2 separate regions of the Homo sapiens genome follow, and region 2 is linked to region 1. Evidence: fine-mapped QTL for protein levels in blood plasma. Region 1 holds a variant in brackets. A gene starts in the other region. All regions are shown on their forward strands.

Region 1 (5,381 bases):
CAGCAAAGTCTCAGGATACAAAATCAATGTGCAAAAATCAGAAGGATTCTTAAACACCAATAACAGACAGAGAGCCAAATTATGAGTGAACTCCCATTCACAATTGCTTCAAAGAGAATAAAATACCTAGGGATCCAACTTACGAAGGAAGGGGAAGGACCTCTTCAAGGAGAATTACAAACCACTGCTCAATGAAATAAAAGAGGATACAAACAAATGGAAGAACATTCCATGTCATGGGTAGGAAGAATCAATATCATGAAAATGGCCATACTGCCCAAGGTAATTTATAGATTCAATGCCATCCCCATCAAGCTACAAATGACTTTCTTCACAGAATTGGAAAAAACTACTTTAAAGTTCATATGGAACCAAACAAGAGTCTGCATTGCCAAGTCAATCCTAAACCAAAAGAACAAAGCTGGAGTCATCACGCTACCTGAGAAAACTATTTAATAAATGGTGCTGGGAAAACAGGCTAGCCATATGTAGAAAGCTGAAACTGGATCCCTTCCTTACACCTTATACAAAAATTAAGTCAAGATGGATTAAAGACTTAAATGTTAGACCTAAAACCATAAAAACCCTAGAAGAAAACCTAGGCAATACCATTCAGGACATAGGCTTGGGCAAGGACTTCATGTCTAAAACACCAAAAGCAATAGCAACAAAAGCCAAAATTGACAAATGGGATCTCATTAAACTAAAGAGCTTCTACACAGCAAAAGAAACTACCATCAGAGTATATAGGCAACCTACAGAATGGGAGAAAATGTTTGCAATCTACTCATCTGGCAAAGGGGCTGATATTCAGAATCTACAATGAACTCCAACAGATTTACAAGAAAAAAACAAACAACCCCATCAACAAGTGGGTGAAGGATATGAACAGACACTTTTCAAAAGAAGATATTTATGCAGCCAAAACACACATGAAAAAATGCTCATCATCACTGGCCATCAGAGAAATGCAAATCAAAACCACAATGAGATACCATCTCACACCAGTTAGAATGGTAATCATTAAAAAGTCAGGAAACAACAGGTGCTGGAGAGGATATGGAGAAATAGGAACACTTTTACACTGTTGGTGGGACTGTAAACTAGTTCAACCATTGTGGAAGTCAGTGTGGCGATTCCTCAGGGATCTAGAACTAGAAATACCATTTGACCTAGCAATCCCATTACTGGGTATATACCCAAAGGATTATAAATCATGCTGCTATAAAGACACATGCACACGTATGTTTATTGCGGCACTATTCACAATAGCAAAGACTTGGAACCAACCCAAGTGTCCAACAATGATAGACTGGATTAAGAAAATGTGGCACATATACACCATGGAATATTATGCAGCCATAAAAAATGATGAGTTCATGTCCTTTGTAGGGACATGGATGAAATTGGAAACCATCATTCTCAGCAAATGATCGCAAGGACAAAAAACCAAACACCTCATGTTCTCACTCATAGGTGGGAATTGAACAATGAGAACACATGGACACAGGAAGGGGAACATCACACACCAGGGCATGTTGTGGGGTGGGGGTAGGGGGGAGGGATAGCATTGGGAGATATACCTAATGCTAAATGATGAGTTAATGGGTGCAGCACACCAACATGGCACATGTATCCATATGTAACTAAACTGCACATTGTGCACATGTACCCTAAAAAAGTATAATAAGAAAAAAAGAAAAAAGTATCACTTTGTATATATTTTTATTTATCATTTTCTGTCTTTTAGTCATAATATTTTTTTAAAAATTTTATTAGTAAGTGCCTGCCAGTCTGTTGTGTATACTGGTGCACATTTAATATGAAAGTTTAATTCACGACATTTTGAAGTTGAAATGCAAAGTCTTCTTAAACTTCCATCTGGCTGGGTGCCATGGCTCATGCCTGTAATTCCAACACTTTGGGAGGCTGAGGCAGTTGGATCACTTGAAGTCAAGAGTTCAAGACCAGGCTGGCCTTAGCCTTGCTTTCTGTACAGTCTGCAGAACTGCAAGTAAATTAAATCTCTTTCATTTATAAATTACCCAGTGTCAGGTAGTTATTTACAGCAATGCGAGAACAGACTAATACAGATCTGCAGAAATATTCCATTAGGAAAAATACTCAATAGTATATAAACAAGTCAACATTGTGATTAAAAAAAAAAATACACCATGTTGAAAGAATATGTCAAGGATGGTTCAGTAAGGAATTTGGACACACCCTATCAATGGCCTCAGAAACTTCACTAAGTTCAAAGAAATCAGGAAAGAAGGATCTCACCATAACTACCACCACATTGACCAACCCACACAGAACTCAAACCTACATATTCTCTGGCTTCTCTCATGATGGTAAGTGAAGTTCCTTGGCCCTATCTTTTACCTTCATGCTAGATTCCATACCGTATTACCTAATCAAGGATTTTGCTTCCGTAATTATGTTCCATTTCTCCCTGCATCTTCAATTTGTTCTTCTTTATGACAAATGTGCTGTAATATCTCCCATTTTTACAAAGCTCTCTCTACATATTTAATGCCTCTCCATTTACCACACAATTTGTCTGACATCTTTATTGCAAAAATCTTTGAAAAGAATGTTATAGTTATTGTTCGCCATGTTCTCACCTCCCATTTTCTCTTCCACACACTCTATAGGGGCTTTTGTACTCACCACTTCCATCATTTTCATAATAATGAAATCCAAATCTGTTTCTAAAGCCAAGGTTCTGCATAATTGGTCCCCTGCCTATCTCCTATCTTTGAACTTATTGACTTCTCTATAACTAATTTACTTCACTAATTTAGCCACACTGGCCTCTTAACACTATGCCAATATACCAAGCTTGCTTATATCTTTATCAAGCATGTTTTGTCCCTTTATTCAAATCTGTTCAAATGTCACCATTTTGAAGCCTTCTTTGAATACACAAAAATCCTCAATCCCCTTAACTTGCTTATTTTTGTATCAAAATTGTTGTCATTAGGAGACAGCTGATACCCAAGATTCCTTCCTCCTGATATTCACATGCTTGTGTGGTTCCCACCTTAATATATCAGGATTGGTCTGTGTGACCCATAGAATATGAGGAAAGTGTTAGTATATATTAATACCCCTGAGATCATGTTATAAAAGAAACTGTGGCTTCATTTTTTTTTTTTTTTTGGCAACTTCACTCTGTCTGTCTCTTTGTCTCACTGTCTTGATCTCTCTCTTTCTCTCTTTCCCTTTCTCACATCTT[T/G]TACTTTGGGAAAGACCAGCAGCCATGTCCAATAGCTTTATGGAGAGGCCATCCTTTCCAAGTGAATCTCTAGGCGTCTCCTTCATTTGACTTCACAGTGAAGCAAGCACCTAGAGGGGATGAGAAGGAAAAGTTTCCCACCCTCAATCTCTCAGTCCCCACTTGATCTCTATAACAATTTCACTCTGCCCAAATTGTGTCTAATGTGGACACAGTGGGGTGAATGATAGGGATGCATTGGCTTCCTTCTAGTAGGCCCTGCTAGGAAGTGAGGTGTCAGTTTCAAGTACTGATGACTTTTTGGTTGTGATTTCATTTTTAGAATGAGGAAATATTATTTGCCTTTTGTTCACCAATATCATCACTACCCTGTACCTATTAATTACGCTTATATTTCCTTCCTTACAAAACCTTTTGTTTTTCCTGGAGTTAATAATTACCTCCTTTTTCTCACTTATTTGGTTTTCTTTAAACATCTAAGTCTTCCTGACACTTCCAACGGACTTGTAAAATCCCTCTTCATACAATTTTCCTCACTGACACTTCTCAGATAATTTGCCTTTGTCCTGGAAATTTTATTTTCTTCTCTCAAATAGGGTGATGCATATCCTGAGTTAATGCCTCCCTCTTTCTCAGCCTTCTTCTTTGGTGAAACCCATTCTTCCATAGCTTGTTGCAAATGAGCCACATGAGAGGGGAAACATTTCAAGATCATTCATGTCTAAGAATGTGCTTAGTCTGGCCTCACACTTGACTGATAATCTGGCCAAATATAGGACACTAGGTTGAAAATGACTTTTGCTCAGAATCTTTCTGACACCATCTTCTAACTTTTACCCTTCCATTTTCACTCTAATTCTCAATCCTTAGTGTAAAACTGTTTTTTTCCTCCACTGGAATCTTGAGGATCATCCTTTTATCCCTAAAATTTAATTAGATTTAAGTTGATATGGATCTCTTTCCATTTATTGTGCTGGGCACTCAGTATTCTATTCCGGGTGTTGCAGGGGCTGTGCTGGGCCCTACATTTTAGATTGGTCTCCACACACCCCAAAACCAAACGCATGGTTTAATTCCTTTCACTCTCCTTGGAAAATATTTTAAAAGTCCAGCAAATAAATAAAAAACAGGAATTGTGGGAGAGGGGCACAGGCAGAACTGTGGTCCTCAAGTCCTGAGGATGCAGAATTGAGAAGGTACAATGAGAATAAATTCACAGCTTCTGCTCTGGGACACCAGAGAAAAAAATGAATGCTTTTGCTTAATGTTTTTCAGCTTAAAAAGACCAAAGAGCACATCTGGGCAGACAGGTTCACCCACTCTCCCTCCATAAATGCACTCTCTACTACTCCTGTGGTCAGTAATATCATTTGGGGAGCTGCTTAGAACCTCCTGGGAAACCCAAATCAGAAGTGAGGCAGGGCAGAGAGCATCGCTTGCCTAGCAGGCTCCCACAAAAGCTTGGCCAGGTCAATGCTTGGCCCCCACCCAGCTTCCACCCTGCTGCTCCAGCAGACAGCCCTACCCCTCTCCATCCTCCCACCTCCCAGCTTGCAGTCAGGGTTAATGCAGGGAAACACATGTTCCTTTAGCCTCCTGGCTAGTTGAGAAAGGCAGTTTCCAAGAGACAGACTGCAGGACTTATGTGGAACCTGACATGAATCTAGGGTCTAGACACTTTATAACTTATAGAGTAGGGGCTATAAAGTAGGTGGGGCTCCATTTGTATTCCTGCACTGGGCACTGCAAATGGTTAAGTGTGGGCCTGCGGATCAACATTGGGCCCTTTCAATATGGAGAATACACCTTAAGTTCTGGGAAATCTAGTGTTTCATTGACTATTTCTTTCCCATATAGTCTCTGTTTTCTTTGTCTAATGTTGGTTGAATTTTTTTTTCTCACCCATGGATCATCTCTTTTCATTCTATCTTATGGGAGAGTTCCTTAACTTTATCTTCTACTGCGCTTATCATCAACTGAATTTATAATTGCCAATATTTCTTTTTGTTTTCCAGTCATTCCTTTATTTAATAACATCCTATTCTTGTTTCAAAAATGCAGTGTCGGCTGGGCGCAGTGGCTCACGCCTGTAATCCCAGCTCTTTGGGAGGCCGAGGCGGGGTGGATCACGAGGTTAAGA
Region 2 (5,381 bases), not on the chromosome of region 1:
GTCAAGGTCCTGCCCCTCAATAGCAGCAGGACTGGGATAGAACCCCGGTGTCCCCAGCATCCTAAATCCCAGGTCCAGGGCTCTTTCCCTCATACCCACCCCTAAGCCTCCCTTCCCGCTTCCCCCTGGGGTACCTTCTCATGGCGGGACAGGGACGGGTGGACAAACTTGCGGTAAAGCAGGCTGGCGCCCTTGGTGTAGGGTGAGAGCAGCCACAGCACGAAGGCCATCTTGATCTCATAGTAGAAAGGGAACCTGTCACAGCACAAGGGGCAGGGTGAGCCAAGGAGCAGGGCTGGGGGGGCCACCCCTGACCCATGGCTTGCGGACCCTGCGTCCATACCAGGAGATAAAAATGTCTGTAACGATCTCTGCTGCCATGAAGAGTGCAAAAACAATCCAGTACATCATCCACCGCACCTGTGGGGTGAGCGCCCAGAGGTCAGCATGGGGCCTGCAGCACCAACTCCCAACCCAGGCCAGCCCAGCCCAGAGATTCCAGGGAGCCTGTCCGGCTGCATAGCTGCTTTCCCCCACACATGGCTGGACAGGAGCTCTGAGAAACTGCTGCTCATTCCTATGCCCGCCTCCAACAAGCTTCACCCACCAGATCTTCCACAGGCACCCCGATGGCCTGCCCTCTATCTACACCCTCTTGAACAGGGCCCATTCTCTCTCCCTCCCCACTCCACTCAGGATGTGCCACACAGCCTTGCCCCTGGAGGAGGGAGAGGCCAACTGAGACCCTCCCCACCTCACCAAGTCCTATTAAACACACCCAAACCCCCACGCTCACATATTCACGAATGTTCTTGGTCTTCACAGCCTTATAGGAAGCATAAGCTGGACACAGCATCCCAAACACCAGCCTGGAAGAGCAGCCATGGGGAGTGTGAGGGGCACCATGCCCCACTCCCACCTTGCCAAGTGGCCATTTCCCCCCACTGGGGTGCAAGGTGGCAGTACCCGCCCTGTTTTTCTCGCTTGGCTTGTACAACCCGTGCCTGAGTCAGAGCCCTGGAGGCCACCTCCCCACCCTGCTGTTTACAAACATCCCAAGCCTGCCCAGGCCTGCACCGGTGGCCCATGGGTGCATGATGGAGTGAGAGGACAGCCACTCCACGAAGTGGGTGAGAACACCAGACTGTCCCCTCCCATGGGCATGCAATCAGGCCCAGGGTCACCAGACCTGACACTGCTGGGTTGCAGATAGGGCTATGTGAGCCAGATGTTGGCATACTCAAAGGTGAGGAATAGGATGGTGAGTCATGTGACTGCTCAGATGGCAAGCAGGCACCTGGATTCTCCGCCCACAACGTGCCATATCACCTTGTGTTTGCCAAGGGGCAGCAAGGTAGGCCTGTGGCCCTCGGCTCCACGCATCTGTTTGCAGTGTGTGTGGCGTGCGGCAGGGGTCGTTCTCAGCCAACGAGGCTTGGTGGGGCGGGTAGCCTGCGGTGCCCCAGACACCGCGTGCAAGCCCACAGGTCCGTTAACCCTTGCATGGAGTGCTGGAGGGTGGAGCTCAGAAAGTTCCTCCTCCCACTAGACGTCCACAGCTTCCACCACAGGGGCGGGACGGCACCCCGGGGTAGAGGAGGTCTGAGGGCGGCCATACTCACACCACCAGGCGACAGATCATCCAGGACACCATCTTGCCGGCCTTTGGGACGTGGGGAGGACCCCAGGAAGCCGCTCAGAAGGACGTTCACTCAAGGGCTGGGACGGGGGGTGATCAGGGCAGTTGCGGGAAGCAGAGGGGCGATCCGGCTGTCCCTCGGCGGAGGCAGAGCCCGCCGCCCACGGCCTCCGACTGTGCAGTTCAGGGGACCTGGAGAATGGGGAGACCCGAGGCAAAGCGGCCCCGGCGGGGAGGAAGCCGACTTGGGAGCGGGCGCGCCCCGCGGCCGGGGCAGTTACAGCTCCCACCCGCCCTTTCTGCCGCGGAGAACCTGGCGCTCGGCCCTTGCTGCTGGTCCCGCGCTGGAGCGGGTCGCCGCGGTTCCAGCGCGCCGGGCCACCAGCACCGGCCTACAGGGCGGAGTTCGCAACTCACTTGAAAGTTGCACGGAACCGAGTGCTGCCCAACCCCAGGGCTCCGGCTTGCCACGCAGGCGCAGTGTAGCCCCGGAGGGGGCGGGGCGAGGTCAGGGAGGCGAGAGGCCGGCCCCTTAAAGGGGCGATGTGCCGCGGGACTCGCGCGTGGGGCCCACAGTGGAGCCACCTTCCCAATCGGAAAGATTAGCGTGTGGGAAGCTGTAACAAAAAAGCAGGGGGAGTGCGGGGGTCGGCACACAAAGAAAATCTGGACTCCAGAGTTTAAGCGACCCTTCACTGGCTTTTCCCGGTGTCTTTCCCTCTCGCCTCATTTTCCCCTCTGTGAACCGGGTAAAGGCATGAGATGCGGTTGGTGGGGTAGAGGGAAGGATCTCCTCTGCAGGCTCAGTCAGGAGCTGGAAGGAAGCTTGGCTGAGCGCCAGCAAGTCCGGGTCTCACACCAGTGGGTCCAGGAGGGAAAGGGGGGAGGTGTGGGGGGAGAGGGAACCTGAGGGACTTTTTGCCCCACCAGGTTTCAGGGGTTCCCTTCTCTCTGGGATGCCTTTCCAGATCCCTGACTCCGGGGCAGGCTGACCGCGATGATTTGAGGCATTCTGGGTAGAGCTCTCAGCTCCCACACTCCTTCAGCAGAAGTTTGAAATTCCACCTATTCCTCTGAGCCAAGTACACAAATAACCCTGGGCCCTTAATAGTAGTATCAACCATTGCCATTTTGTAATGCACGTTTGCACGCAAGGTCTTAGTCTTTGCAAACTTCTTTTAACCATGTAGGAAATAGGATGCTCAGTGGTGAAAAGTAACTTTCCTGGTATCACCCAGTGGTATTTATTGCTGGCTGGTGGCTACATGCTTGGCTTGATCAGTCTTCTGAGAGATCAGCAGCTGCAGGCTGAGTGGCCCTGCAGAGGGCCATGGAACCGGATAAGTTCCTCTGGGAGGGAGGCAGATGCCAGGAAGAAGGGGGAAGGCTCTAAAAAAGAAGGCAAACGTTGCTGCTTCTACTACTTGCCCTGTGAGGTTTCATTCTTTTTGACATCTTCAGCTTACTGCCTCTGTTGTTCCCTCTGAAAATAGTGTCCCCCCACCTTGCAGAGGGTGGGAGCAAAGCTGTCCGGGCATGTGGGGTGGAAACACAGGCAGTTACTGCTTTTTATTGGAGCCACAGTTAACCCCCACCAGCTATCATAAGGATGGAATAGGTAATCATGGGGCCAGGGAAAGGAGGCTTCTGGGGGATAAATAAACACACGGTGATTATATGGTCTTAATTACTGTCATCAGTTTTATTGGTATTGCTGGGTGTGAGAGCCAGCAGTGAAACCAGCCCACAGGAGAAACTTCCCCGAGGCCCCATGTCTCCCTCTCCTCTCTTAACCAACCCTCACATTTACCTGTCCCCCCTTACACACACACATTGGAGTAACCAAAAAGGCCAAGGGCTAGAGGAACTCCTAAGGAAGGCCCCAGCCACTGTCCATCTTTAGGCACAGACATGGTTCTCTAGGTGAAAAGTGTCCTGGGTCTCCCTGAAGGAGGAAAGCTGTGACTGAATAGGGGAGCAGCTGAAAGGGACATCCATGACTCAGGAGGTCACTGCACACGTGAGCCTCGGGTCCTTTGGTGCGTGCTGCAGAACTGTCCCTTCCCTGCTGGCTGCCTTCTGGGGCCACGCACCTGACCTCAGCATCACAGGCCTCTGTCTACCCCCATTTGCTGGGAAACATTACCTGGGCCCGCCCAAAGCTCATTCAGCTGGGATGGTCTCCCGTATGGAGACTCCTGGTCCCAATGCCTGTGCTTGGGAAATCTCAGAGAAGAGATGTCAGAGGTCTGCGCTGACAGCAAGGCTCAGCACGGAGGGCAAGAGGCTGGCAGCTGAGGAGTGTCACCATCCCTGGTCTTGGCAGAGTGAGTAGACCTTGCCTCTTGCAGCCTTTGGTCCTGAGCTGTTGACACAGTCACCCAATTCCACTGGGTTGCTAAGCAGCACTCTGGACGTGGACAAGCCCCAGGGCAAGTGACCCAGCAGGCACACACAGAAAGCCAGGCACTCGGGCCAAGGGAGGAAAGTGCCTCCCACCCCTCAGAAGAGCTCCCCCCTGGGGGCAGCAGCTGTCAAAGTGATATTTATCTTTCTACTGGGCAGCAGAGTGCCAGCGTGTCTGGGAGACTCAACCCACTTTCCCTGGCAACCTCTCCCAAGCACAGGATAAGGGCCCGTTTCCCATTTGGAAAAGAAGGACAGGCCTCCCCAGAATGATGGAGGTGCCTGCTAAGCTAAGAGCATATTTGAGGAGGTGAAAAGCAGGTAAGTCACCTATTGCTGGGGGTGAGGAGGCCAGGTCAGAGGCTGCAGGTAAGATATGGGGCACAGGGGCTCCAAGACTGAGGATGGGTGAGGAACCATCACCCACAGACAGTTCTCTCCAAAGATCCACCTCCTCCTCTTGCACAAAACACCCCTCTCTGAGCCACTTCTGTTTTCATATATTCCCATAGACCAAGGCAAATCATAATCATGTGCTGGACACACTATACAAATGGACTTACATATACTAATGCATTTCACTCTCATGAGAAATAATCCTGTCAGGGTAGGATGCGGTGGCTCATGCCTGTAGTAATCCCAACACTTTGGGAGGCCGAGGACGGCAGATCATTGAGGTCAGGAGTTCGAGACCAGTCTGGTGAACATGGTGAAACCCATCTCTACTAAAAATATGAAAATTAGTCAGGGGTGGGGGCGTGCTCCTGTAGTCCCAGCTACTTGGAAGGCTGAGGCAGGAGAATTAATTGAACCTAGGAGGCTGAGGTTGCAGTGACTCAAGATCGCACTACTGCACTCCAGCCTAAGCTGGAAAAAACAAACAACAAACCCTGTCAGGTAGGTATCACGATTATACTCATTTTATAAATAAGAAAAACCGAGGCACAAATAGGCTAAGTAACGTGGCTGAATGTTACTAGCTGGTTTCACCCGGCTGGCAGAATCAGGAACCCATGAAGTGGGGTTTTTAAATCTGCTTCACAGAAGGAGAAATTGAAGCTCAGGGAAATCAGCTGACTTGCTTGAAATCTCACACCATGGAAAGGGACTGAGCCAGAATTCACACCCATGTTATCCAGGCTCCAGACCCCACTCCTCTGTGCACAGCTGCTCACAGGTGCTCGCTGAAGAGAGAGAAACGAAGGGTTTTTGTGATATGCGAGAGCTGAGAGGGGCTCTGGAGGACAAATGAAAACCTGGAGACTCAGAGAAGGGATTTGACCTGCCCAGGGTCACACAGCAAGCACCACTGCCCAAGGATCTATCATTTCCCCCG

Direction of the effects. Alleles are on the strand shown, and positions count from the first base shown. The strength of an association depends on the size of the effect and on how common the allele is.
With allele G in place of T in region 1, the plasma level of the protein whose gene starts at base 2,079 in region 2 is higher (moderate association).

The links. PIP is the chance, under the fine-mapping model, that this variant and not a neighbour inherited with it causes the effect. The UK Biobank Pharma Proteomics Project read protein levels with antibody pairs (Olink). The fine-mapping took linkage between variants from a reference panel, not from the people measured, so its PIPs are less certain.
Region 2: it holds the start of REEP4, and the variant in region 1 is fine-mapped to the plasma level of the REEP4 protein (UK Biobank, PIP above 0.99).

Annotation. Positions count from the first base shown.
Region 1 is chr12:11,420,443-11,425,823 of GRCh38, forward strand. No RefSeq gene overlaps it. Among named protein-coding and RNA genes, the nearest start is that of PRB2, 28 kb to the left of the region's middle. The variant T/G (reference allele first, on the strand shown) is at 3,242.
Region 2 is chr8:22,139,829-22,145,209 of GRCh38, forward strand. It overlaps REEP4 (receptor accessory protein 4), which reads right to left and starts at 2,079. Exons shown (of 8, transcript NM_025232.4): 1 at 1,623-2,079; 2 at 797-869; 3 at 344-420; 4 at 135-255. The coding sequence starts at 1,654. RefSeq lists enhancers at 1-460, 461-1,068 and silencers at 1,833-1,982, 1,993-2,122.